Regions from separate parts of the Homo sapiens genome. Here region 2 is linked to region 1. Evidence: fine-mapped expression QTL. A gene starts in region 1. The other region holds a variant in brackets. All regions are shown on one strand. Distances are from middle to middle. Region 1 holds the start of ITCH (itchy E3 ubiquitin protein ligase). Region 2 has its middle 26 kb from the start of ITCH.

What was found.
Region 2: its variant is fine-mapped to the expression of ITCH in whole blood (TOPMed, PIP 0.91).

The regions. Positions count from the first base shown.
Region 1 is chr20:34,361,140-34,366,509 of GRCh38, reverse strand. ITCH (itchy E3 ubiquitin protein ligase) reads right to left here and starts at 3,237. Exons shown (of 25, transcript NM_031483.7): 1 at 3,161-3,237. RefSeq lists a silencer at 2,703-2,932.
Region 2 is chr20:34,334,718-34,340,087 of GRCh38, reverse strand. No RefSeq gene overlaps it. Among named protein-coding and RNA genes, the nearest start is that of ITCH, 26 kb to the left of the region's middle. RefSeq lists enhancers at 1,619-1,668, 1,719-1,828. The variant G/C (reference allele first, on the strand shown) is at 2,269.

The DNA of each region.
Region 1 (5,370 bases):
CTTACACCTGTAATCCCAACACTTTAGGAGGCCAAGGTGGGAGGACCACTTGAACACAGGAGTTAAGACCAGACTGGGCAACGTAAAGAGAACCTTTCTCTACAAAAAAATTTTAAAAATTAGCCAGGCATGCTAATGCATGCCTGTTGTCCCAGCTACTCAGGGAGGCTGGGGTGGGAAGATCACTTGAGCTCTGGAGGTCCTGTCACTGCACTCCATCCTGCGTGACTGGGTGAGACCCAGTCTCAACAACAAAAAATCACTTTTCATATACTTGCTTCCTTTAACCTTTCTGACCTTGCGTTTCAAAATGCTCTCCTTCCCCATTCCACTCCACACTCCCTGAACCCTTTTTGTTCCATAATCCTCTGAATTTACACACAGCATTAAGGCATTCACTCAGCCTACCCTGTCCTTCTCTTTCCCCGCCCTTTTCACACTCCTACTCTTCATGTAAGACCCAATGTGGGTTCAGGGGCAAATCTTGCCTCTTCTAACCAATCCTCCACCCAGCCACACACACAGAATTGGCCACTTCCTCTTTCGTCTCAAAGCTTTTTGACCTTTCCTTGGTAAGTCTACAGTACCATTTGCCCTCAGTGGTTCCCAAGACCATCAGAATTACCTAAGGCATGTGTTAAAAATAAATTGGTTGAAGCCAACCCAGACCTACTAAATCCATCTCAGAAGGTAAGACCCTGGAATTTCTAAGCTCTCCTAATTATTCTAATGGTCAAATTTGGGGACTACTGGTTTGTCTGCCTCTCCCAATAAGTGAAAAGATGTATTTTTTAGGGCCAGGAGTGGCGGCTCATGCCTGTAAACCCAGCACTTTGGGAGGCCAAGGCAGGTGGATCACGAGGTCAGGAGTTCGAGAGCAGCCTAGCCAATATGGTGAAAACCCATCTCTACTAAAAAATACAAAAAAATTACCGGGAGTGGTGGCACGCGCCTGTAGTCCCAGCTACTACGGAGGCTGAGGCAGAAGAATTGCTGGAACCCGGGAGGCGGAGGTTACAGTAAGCCGAGATCACACCACTGTACTCCAGCCTGGGTGACAAAGTTAGATTCCGTCTCAAACAAACGAAAAAGATGTATTTTTTTCTAAAGAATGTAGAAATGTTTGATTCTAGAATACACTGAAGAAGTAGTCTGTACTCATTTTTTTAATTTCATATGATATCCTTGGTGACTTGACCTGTATGCTGAATGTAATGGAATTCCTTTTGGACTCACAAAACTTAAATTCACAGTTCAAAGAAGCAGTAGAATTTCCACCTTCATTTCTAAATTTTTTTTTTTATTTTTTGAGACAGGGTCTCACTCTGTCACCCAGGCTGGAATGCAGTGGCAACGGTAACAGCTCACCGCAGCCTCGACCCCCCGGAATCAGGTGATTCCCCCACCTCAGCCTCCTGAGTATCTGGGACCACAGGCGCCTGCCACCACACCCGGCAAATCTTTGTATTTTTTGTAGAGACGGGGTTTCACGATGTTGCCCAGGCTGATCTCCAATTCCTGGGCTCACGTAATCCGCCCACCTCGGCCTCCCAAATTGCTGGGATTACAGGCGTGAGCCACCACACCCATCCCATTGCTTTTTTTTTTTTTTTTTTTTTGAGGCGGAGTCTCGCTCTGTCGCCCAGGCTGGAGTGCAGCAGCGAGATCTCGGCTCACTGCAGCCTCCACCTCCCGGGTTCAAGCCATTCTCCTGCCTCAGCCTCCCTAGTAGCTGGGACTACAGGCGCGCGCCACCACGCCCAGGATTTTTTTTTTTTTTTTTTTGTATTTTTAGTAGAGACGGGGTTTCACCATGTTGGTCAGGATGGTCTCGAACTCCTGACCTCATGATCTGCCCGCCTCGGCCTCCCAAAGTGCTAGGATTACAGGCGTGAGCCACACACAGCACCCGGCCCATTTCTTAATTTTAAAAATAAATCGTAGCTTAAATAAACCTGTAAATACACATAGCAAGCTCTCAGCAGATCTGCCATGAGAACTTCACCTCAACTGATAAACCATTCCTTAGCCGATTTTGAGAATGGAAATACACTGCCTTTACATACTTCCTGAAGATCGAATTCTATCAGGAAAAGATGCAGGAGAACCCACCTAAGTGGGTGGCTGGCTCCAGGGTCTTACTAATTTTCAAGGCAAAAATCCCACAATTCCCCATCCCCCACTCCAAACCAAGTATACTGTAGCTGTGGAAGAATGGCAGAAAATGTAATAAGATTAGGATACGAATACAACCAAGAAAACAAGGTTGCGTTGTTATTGGGGATAATGAATTCCTGGCCCTTTACAAGTTCACCTGGTTACATGTCCAACTAACTTTAGGCCCAGCGTCTACTTCGGGCGCACAAATTCTGCGATTCTCTTTTCTGTCGCGGACGGGAACTGTCTTGGAAAACTTGAGTTCTCCACTTAAAAGTCATGTCATCATGCTTCGACCCTTAGAATACGTTCAACGGCTACTTTTTTCTTTTCTCTGCTAAAGAAAAGGGCACTCTCCGGAGGAAGGGCAGTGACAGCTCCACGTCTGCAAAAGTCGGCGCCGCCACGACGGTGGCGGACGTCGGGGAGGGCGCCGGAGCCGGGACCACCACGCCGGGGGGACAATGGAAGGAGGAGGCGAGTGGGAGAGAGAAGGGGAGGCAGCCGCTGTGCTGGGCCCTTCTAGCGACTGGGGGCTCGGAAAAGTCTCGAGAAGGCCAGCTGGGTGGCGGGGGACCCGGCCGCCGCCCCTCACAGGGCCACGTCGCCCGCGCCGGCCCCGCCGCCGGGCCCCGCGCGTAGGCCGAACCGCTGGAGAGTGGCCCCAGGCGGGGCTGAGGGGCGAGGGGCCGGACGGTACCCACGCCCGTCGTGGCCCAGCCCTTTCACAACTTGGAGCCCGCGAGGCGAAGGCCTCCGGAAGCCTGTGCCAGACACTGATCCCTCCGAACGTCCAGACAGCCCACCCCCACCGCCCGGCCCGGGCCAGTAGCCCGAGCTCCCCGCGCCCCCGACAGACACCGGCTCTGGAAGAAGGAGCAGCCGCGGCTCTGGGGTCCCGAACCGCGCGTCCCACTCCTCTACCCTTGTTCTCCCCGAACATTCTCATCCGGACTCCCTCCCTCTCCCGAGAACTGCCCCGAGTTCGCCCACGGGGGTTTACCGGGACTCGGGGCGGCGGCGACTCCTCAGTCCCTAGACTAAGATGGCAGCCGGTCCCGAGCCCCGACCACAGCTACTAGAGCGAGTTAGCAGCTAAAGCGCAGGCGCCTGAGCGCGGAAGTGGTCTAGACTACAAGCCCCAGCAGGCCTTGCGCGCCAGCCGTCCGGCCCGCCCCTGGCTTGAAGAGCTGGCTGCGGTGGTAAATCAGTTAAATCCCAGTTTTCCTCAGCTCCAGGTGAGATGGGCGCGAGCGGCTCCCAGCACCTCCAGGCTTTTTTTTTTTTTTAACACCCCGCCCACCAGAGCCTATAAGGACTGTGATTCTCAAACTATGGTGTGCATCAGAATCACCTAGAGAGCTTATTAAAACTTACACTGCTGACCCCCACCCCCAGAGTTTCTGATCAGAAGATCTGGCATAGGAGGATAGGGTCTGATAATTTGCATGTCCAACAAGCTGTCTAGTGATACTGCTAGTGAGTGAAATCATAATTTGAGAACCAATGGGCTATATAGCTTAGTTTATAACTTAGTTGTTCTTTTTTCTTTTTCTTTTCCTTTTCTTTTTTTTTCTTCTTTTTGAGATAAGGTCTCACCCTTCACCCAGGCTGGAGTGCAGTGGTGCAGTCATAGCTCACTACAGCCTCACACTCCTGGGCTCAAGCGAGCCTCCCACCTGGGCTTCCTGAGTAGCTGGGACAGCAGTTGAGCACCACCACACCCGACTAATTTTGTTCTATTCTTTGTAGAGATGGGGATGGGGTGGAGTGCGGATGGGATGGGGCGGGAATAGGGCCACGGTGTCGCCATGTTGCCCAGGCTGGTCTCCAGCTCCTGGGCTCAAGCGATACTCCCTCCTCGGGCCTCCCAATCGCTGAGATTACAGATGTGAGCCACTGCACCTGGCCTGGCTTAGCCTTTAACAATGTACATTAAAGGGCGTGGTTAAAAAGAAAATAAAAGAAAAAAAATGTACACTTGAGAGTTACACTGACCGGATTCAAATCCTCCCTTTTCTACCTTTTAACTGGGTGCCCTTAGGGATGATGACAACAGCTTAGTGGAGCCAACGTGGCCTGTCCGGTATTCTAAGAGCTGATACCAAGCTCCCTTTATTCTCACAACAAACCTATTACAGAAATACCATTATTATCCCCATTTTACAAATATATAAACTAAGTCACATACTTGATAAGAACCCAGGCAGTCTGGCGTGAAAGTCCGTTGTCTTAACCTTCTTCATGGATTGCTTGTGAGAAATAATAGGCTATGCAGGCAGAGACTCAGAGGTATGACTAAGTGCTCAATACTTAGTGACCTTTGCTATTACTGTTTAGCCTGTTTCCTCCTAATGAAAATAGTATTTTGCCATCTGGAAAGTCACATTTTTCAAAGTGACTTTTTTTTTTTTTTTTTTTTTGAGACAGAGTCTTGCTCTGTCACCCAACCTGGAGTGCAGCGGTGCAATCATAGCTCACTGCAGCCAACCTCCTGGGCTCAAGTGATCCTCTCACCTCAGCTTCCTGAGTAGCTGGGACTCCAGGCTCAAGCCACCACACTATCCTAATTGTTTTTATTTTTGTAGAGACGTGGACTCCCTGTGTTGCCCAGGCTGTTCTCAGACTCCTAGGCTTGGCTAGGGTCAGTGGCTTACACCTGTAATCCCAGGAGTTAGGGAGGCCAAGGCAGGCAAATCACTTGAGGTCAGGAGTTTGAGACCAGTCTGGCCAACATGGTGAAACCCCGTCTCTTTTTTTTTTTTTTTTTTTTTTTGAGACAGAGTATTGCTCTGTCGCCCAGGCTGGAGTGCAGTGGCGCAATCTTGGCTCACTGCAACCTCCGCTCGCCTCCTGGGTTCAAGTGATTCTCCTGTCTCAGCCTCCTAAGTAGCTGGGACTACAAGCGCATGCCATCACGCCTGGCTAATTTTTGTATTTTTAGTAGAGTTGGGTGAGCCACCACGCCTAGCCTTGTGAAACCCCTTCCCTACTAAAAACACAAAAATTAGCCAGGTGTGGTGGCGGGTGCCTGTAATCCCAGCTACTTGGGAGGCTGAAGCACGATAATTGATTGAACCCAGGAGGGGGAGGTTGCAGTGACCCAAGATCACGCCATTGCACTCCAGCCTGGGCGACTCAGCGAGACTCTGTCTCAAAAAACAAACAACAAAAGAAACATAAAGGCTGGGCGCAGTAGCTCACTCCTATAAT
Region 2 (5,370 bases), 26 kb after region 1:
GTGTGGATCACTCAAGCCCAGGAGGTCGAGGTTGCAGTGAGCCATGATCACGCTACTGCACTCCAGCCTAGGTGACAGAGTAAGACCACTTCTCAAAAATAAATAAATAGGCCGGGCGCGGTGGCTCACGCCTGTAATCCCAGCACTTTGGGAGGCTGAGGTGGGCAGATCATGAGGTCAGGAGATCGAGACCAGCCTGGCTAACACGGTGAAACCCCGTCTCTACTAAAAATTAGCCGGGCGTGGTGGCGGGCGCCTGTAGTCTCAGCTACTCTGGAGGCTGAGGCAGGAGAATGGCGCGAACTCTGGAGGCGGAGGTTGCAGTGAGCCGAGATCGCGCCATTGCACTCCAGCCTGGGCGACAGAGTGAGATTCTATCTCAAAAAGTAATAATAATAAATAATAAATAAATAAATAGGAATAAAAATAATTTATCTTAAGCTGGCCTTGGTCATAAGAAGGAGGCATTCAGTCAGGCACATATGCTAGTTACTGCTGAACCCCTGATGAAAGAGATAAAATCTGGTTAAAGTTCCCTGATTAAGCCAGGTGCTGTGGCTCACGCCTGTAATCCCAGCACTTTGGGAGGCCAAGGCGGGCGGATCACCTGAAGTCGGGAGTTCGAGACTAGTCTGACCAACATGGAGAAACCCCATCTCTACTAAAAATACAAAATTAGCCGGGCATGGTGGCACATGCCTGTAATCCCAGCTACTCCGGAGGCTGAGGCAGGAGAATTGCTTGAACCTGGGAGGCGGAGGCTGCGGTGAGCTAAGATCCCACCATTGCACTCCAGCCTGGGCAACAAGAGCAAAACTCTGTCTCAAAAAAAAAAAAAAAAAAAGTTCCCTGATTAAAAAACAAAGCTGCCAGGAGTGGTGGCTCATGCCTGTAATCCCAGCACTTTGGGAGGTCAAGGCGGGTGGATCACCTGAGATCAGAAGTTCGAGACCAGCCTGGCCAACGTGGCAAAACCCCGTCTCTACAAAAAATACAAAAATTAGCAGGATGCGGTGGCGCAAGCCTGTATTCCCAGCTACTCAGTATGCTGAGGCACGAGAATCGCTTGAACCTGGGAGGTGGAGGTTACAGTGAGCTGTGATCGTGCCACTGCACTACATACAGCCTGGGTGATAGAGGGAGACTTTGTCTCAAAAAAAAAAACCAAAACAAACAAACAAACAAAAAAAACAGAGGCCTGGCCTGGTGGTTCATGCCTGTAATCTCAGCAGTTTGGGAGGCTGAGGTGGGTGGATCACTTGAGGTCAGGAGTTCAAGACCAGCTTGGCCAAAATGGTAAAACCCTGTCTCTACTAAAAATACAAAAATTAGCCAGGCATGGTGGCGGGCGCCTGTAATCCCAGCTACTCAGGAGGCTGAGGCAGAAGAATTGCTTGAACCCGGGAGGTGGCGGTTGCAGTGAGCCAAGATCACACCACTGCACTTCAGCCTGTGCAACAGAGCGAGTCTCCATCTTGAAAACAAAAACAAAAACCACCAAAGTTGGTGTCAAGCCCAGCACAGGGCAGAGCCTGCATGTGAGAGCTAAGTGGCTTCCGCTGTGGGGAGAAGCTTCCTGGGGCAGGGCAGGGCGTTGAGCAGCACCTGAGAGTCCGGAGGCATTGACAATTTATTATTTCCATCCAATAAAGCATTCATACCTTGCTGTCTTGCTTCATTTTCTTCCCCCAACAACCCGGAAGCAAATATTCGCTATTTCTGCTTGGCAGACGAGGAGATGAGGCTCAAGGGGTTGAGTAACTTGACAAAGGACAAATCGGTAGCAGAGCTAAAATTTTTGTTTAGGTCTTTTTTTTTGAGATAGGGTCTCACTCTGTTACCCATGCTAGGGAACAGCGGCGCCATCACAGCTCACTGCAATCTCCACCTCCCGGGGTCACGTGATCCTCTAACCTCAGCCTCCTGAGTAACTGGGACTACAGGCTAGTGTATCACAGGACCAGCTAATTTTTGGTAGAGACGGGGTTTCCCCATGTTGGCCAGGCTGGTCTTGAACTCCTGACCTCAAGTGATCTGCCTGCCTCATCCTCCCCAAAGCACTGGGATTACAGGTGTGAGCCACTGTGCCCAACCCAGCAGAGCTAAAATTTAAACCTGCTTCTCAGAGATAAATTAAGGAGCAAAGGAAGCCTTTGTTGGATAGCTTCCAGAGGTTGGGAATGTCCCTGGAAAGTGCTGAGATGGAGTCAATTCTGTTGACTGGGGACTCCTAGTAGATAAGCAAGAAATTAGTTGATAAGTTCTAGT[G/C]GTGGGGATGATGAAGACTGAGCACCCGAAGGGGAATGCTTGCAGAGTGATAAATAGTCCCTACACTGCCTTCTAGGGAGATCAAGTTTCCCCATGGGGCTTCTGTCTTAGGAGGTTCTATGAAAATGTAGTCAGAGCTGAATTGCCAGGAAAATGAAGAGACTGGGGGTTGCTACTTCATCTTTCCTTTTGGCCCTTCCTCATATAGCTCTCAACCTCTCCTCTTGATTAGTGGAGACCATATAATAATACAGCAATATTGGTTCCTATCTGCTGTGCATTTGCTATGAGCCAGACTCTTCTTATTTTTATTTATTGGTTTATTTATTTTTTGAGACAGGGTCTTGTTCTGTGGCCTAGGCTGGAGTGCAGTGGTACAATCACAGCTCACTGTAGCCTCAACTTCCCAGGCTCAAGCGATCCTCCCACCTCAGCCTCCCGAGTAGCTGGGACTATAGGCGCACATCACCATGCCCAGCTAATTTTTGTATTTTTTGTAGAGACGGGGTTTCACTGTGTTGCCCAGGCTGGTCTCAAACTCCTGGGCTGAAGCGATCCACCTACCTTGGGCTACCAAAGTGTTGGGATTACAGGCGTGAGCCACTGCACCCAGCTTAGCCAGATTCTTTTCATGTATCATATGGAATCCTCATGATTATATAAAGCAAGTCCTCCCATCATCCTCATTTTAAGGAAAAGGAGGCAAAGTGTGATTGTATTCATTGTCTGTGGCTGTGTCAGGAATTACCCCAAAACTACAAAGCTTAAAACAGCAATAAACATTTATTACCTCAGGTATTTTCTATAGGCAAGGAATTCAGGAGCTGATTAGTTGAGTGATTCTCACCAGAAACATCTCATAAGTTTCAAGATGTTGACCAGGGCTGCAGTCATCTGGAAGCTGGACTGGGGTTGGAGGATACAGTTTCAAGCGGGCCCGTGCACACGGCTGGCAAAGCAGTTGGCTGTTGGCAAGCAGTCTCAGTTACTTCTTGCTGTGTGTGTCCCTGCATTGGGCTGTGCTTATAACATAGCATATAACATTGAGTGTGCTTATAACATAGCAGCTAAGTTCCCTTAGGGCAAGTGATCCAAGAGAGCAAGATGGAAGCTGCAGTCTCTTTGTTTTTTTGTTTGGTTTTGTTTTTGAGACGGAGTCTCGCTCTGTTGCCCAGGCTGGAGTGCAATGGTGCGATCTTGGCTCACTACAATCTCTGCCTCCCAAGTTCAAGCAATTCTCCTGCCTCAGCCTCCTGAGTAGCTGGGGTTACAGGCACGTGCCACCACCCCCGGTTAATTTTTGTATTTTTAATAGAGACGGGGTTTCACCATGTTGGTCAGGGTGGTCTCGAACTCCTGACCTCGTGATCTGCCTGCCTTGGCCTCCCAAAGTGCTGGGATTGCAGGCATGAGCCACTGCGCCTGGCTGTTTTTATTTTTTGAGACAGGTTCTTGCTCTATTGCCCAGGCTGGAATGCAGTGGTGTCATCTCAGCTCACTGCAACCTTGACTTCCTGGGCTCAGGCGATTCTCTCACCTCAGCCTCCCAAGTAGGTTGAGACCACAGGTGCTAATTTTCTTTTCTCTTTTTAGTAGAGGTGAGGTCTCGTTTTATGGCTATGTTGCCTGGGCTGATCTCAATCTCCTGGACTCCAGTGATCCTCCCACCTTAGCCTCCCAAAGTGCTAGGATTACAGGCATGAGACACTGTGCCCAGCCTTGCATTGTCTTTTCTGACCTGGCCTCAGAAGTCACACCTGTTTCTGCAGTAGCCTGGTGGTTATGTAGGAAGAGAGAATCATTGAGGGCCATCTTGGAGGCCACTACCACGATGATAAGTAATTTGCCCAAGGTCACATACATGGGAAGCGTTAGAGGTGAGCTTTGAAGCCAGGAAGTTACTATGTCACAGTAAATATTAGTTTGAAGGAGTAGGGGCAGGCATGTACCCACAGGTCTCCTCTATCCTGGAGGCATTCATGCTTGAGATCCTGAGCTTCTCATTCCAATGGGCAGGTGAGTCAGACACTATCTGATGTGTCAGACAGACATTTTGTACAAGCAACATAATTTGACATTTTCTTTCTTTTTTTTTTTTGAGTAGGAGTCTCTCTCTGTCACGCAGGCTGGAGCGCAGTGGCGTGATCTTAGCTCACTGCAACCTCTGCCTCCCAGGTTCAAGCGATTCTCCTGCCTCAGCCTCCCGAGTAGCTGGGATTATAGGCATGTACCACCACGCTGGCTAATTTTTGTATTTTTAGTAGAGACAGGGTTTCACTATGTTGGCCAGCCTGGTCTCAAACTCCTGACCTCAAATGATCCACCCACCTTGGCCTCCCAAAGTGCTGGGATTATAGGCGTGAGCCACTGCGCCCAGCCAATTTGGGCATTTTTAAAAGACAGAAACAAACAAACAACAAAAAACAGCAAAAGATCGCACAGACTTGCACTTAATGGTAGACATGCTGAATTAAAGGGAACCTGACTGTGGCTCCAGCTTTGCCACTGACTTACTGAAGGACCTTAGGCAAGCTCCAGCCCCCTTTGGGGCCTTTGTTTTCCCATCTGTACAATGGAGCAGTTTGATTCCATGGACACTGAGGTCCTCTGGCTGGGTGATTCTGGGATTCTACGTAGAGAGCTGTTCACGGAGAAAGCCCAGGGAGTTCTTTCTCCACTTTCCCTGGCTTCATCTGTCCTTTGCTGAAGGGGAGCGGACCCCTCAGGTGCAAGGGGCACTCTTCTGGACCCAGGCCAGACCCAGCCAGGCTGTTCAGCCTTGTTTCACCCGAAGCTGGCTGGCACCATTGTTCCCCCATAAAGCTGGGCCCCTTTCCAGCTGCTACTGAACTCAGGGCAGGGGAGAGGCTCAAAGGACTCAGTTGTGTGGATTTCCTCCCTCCCCCAGGGCAGGCCTGGGTCACCCAACAGGCTGATTCAGCCCTTACAGAGGAACAAAAGAGATGAGATATGGTTTAGGGACAGAATTTGACATTTACCATTTTCCCTCATAAAACTTAAAAGTAATCATCTTGGGGAAATCCCCTTATGTTTATTTATTTTACAGTTCAGGGACATTTTAAAAAATTGGGGCAAGGGCAT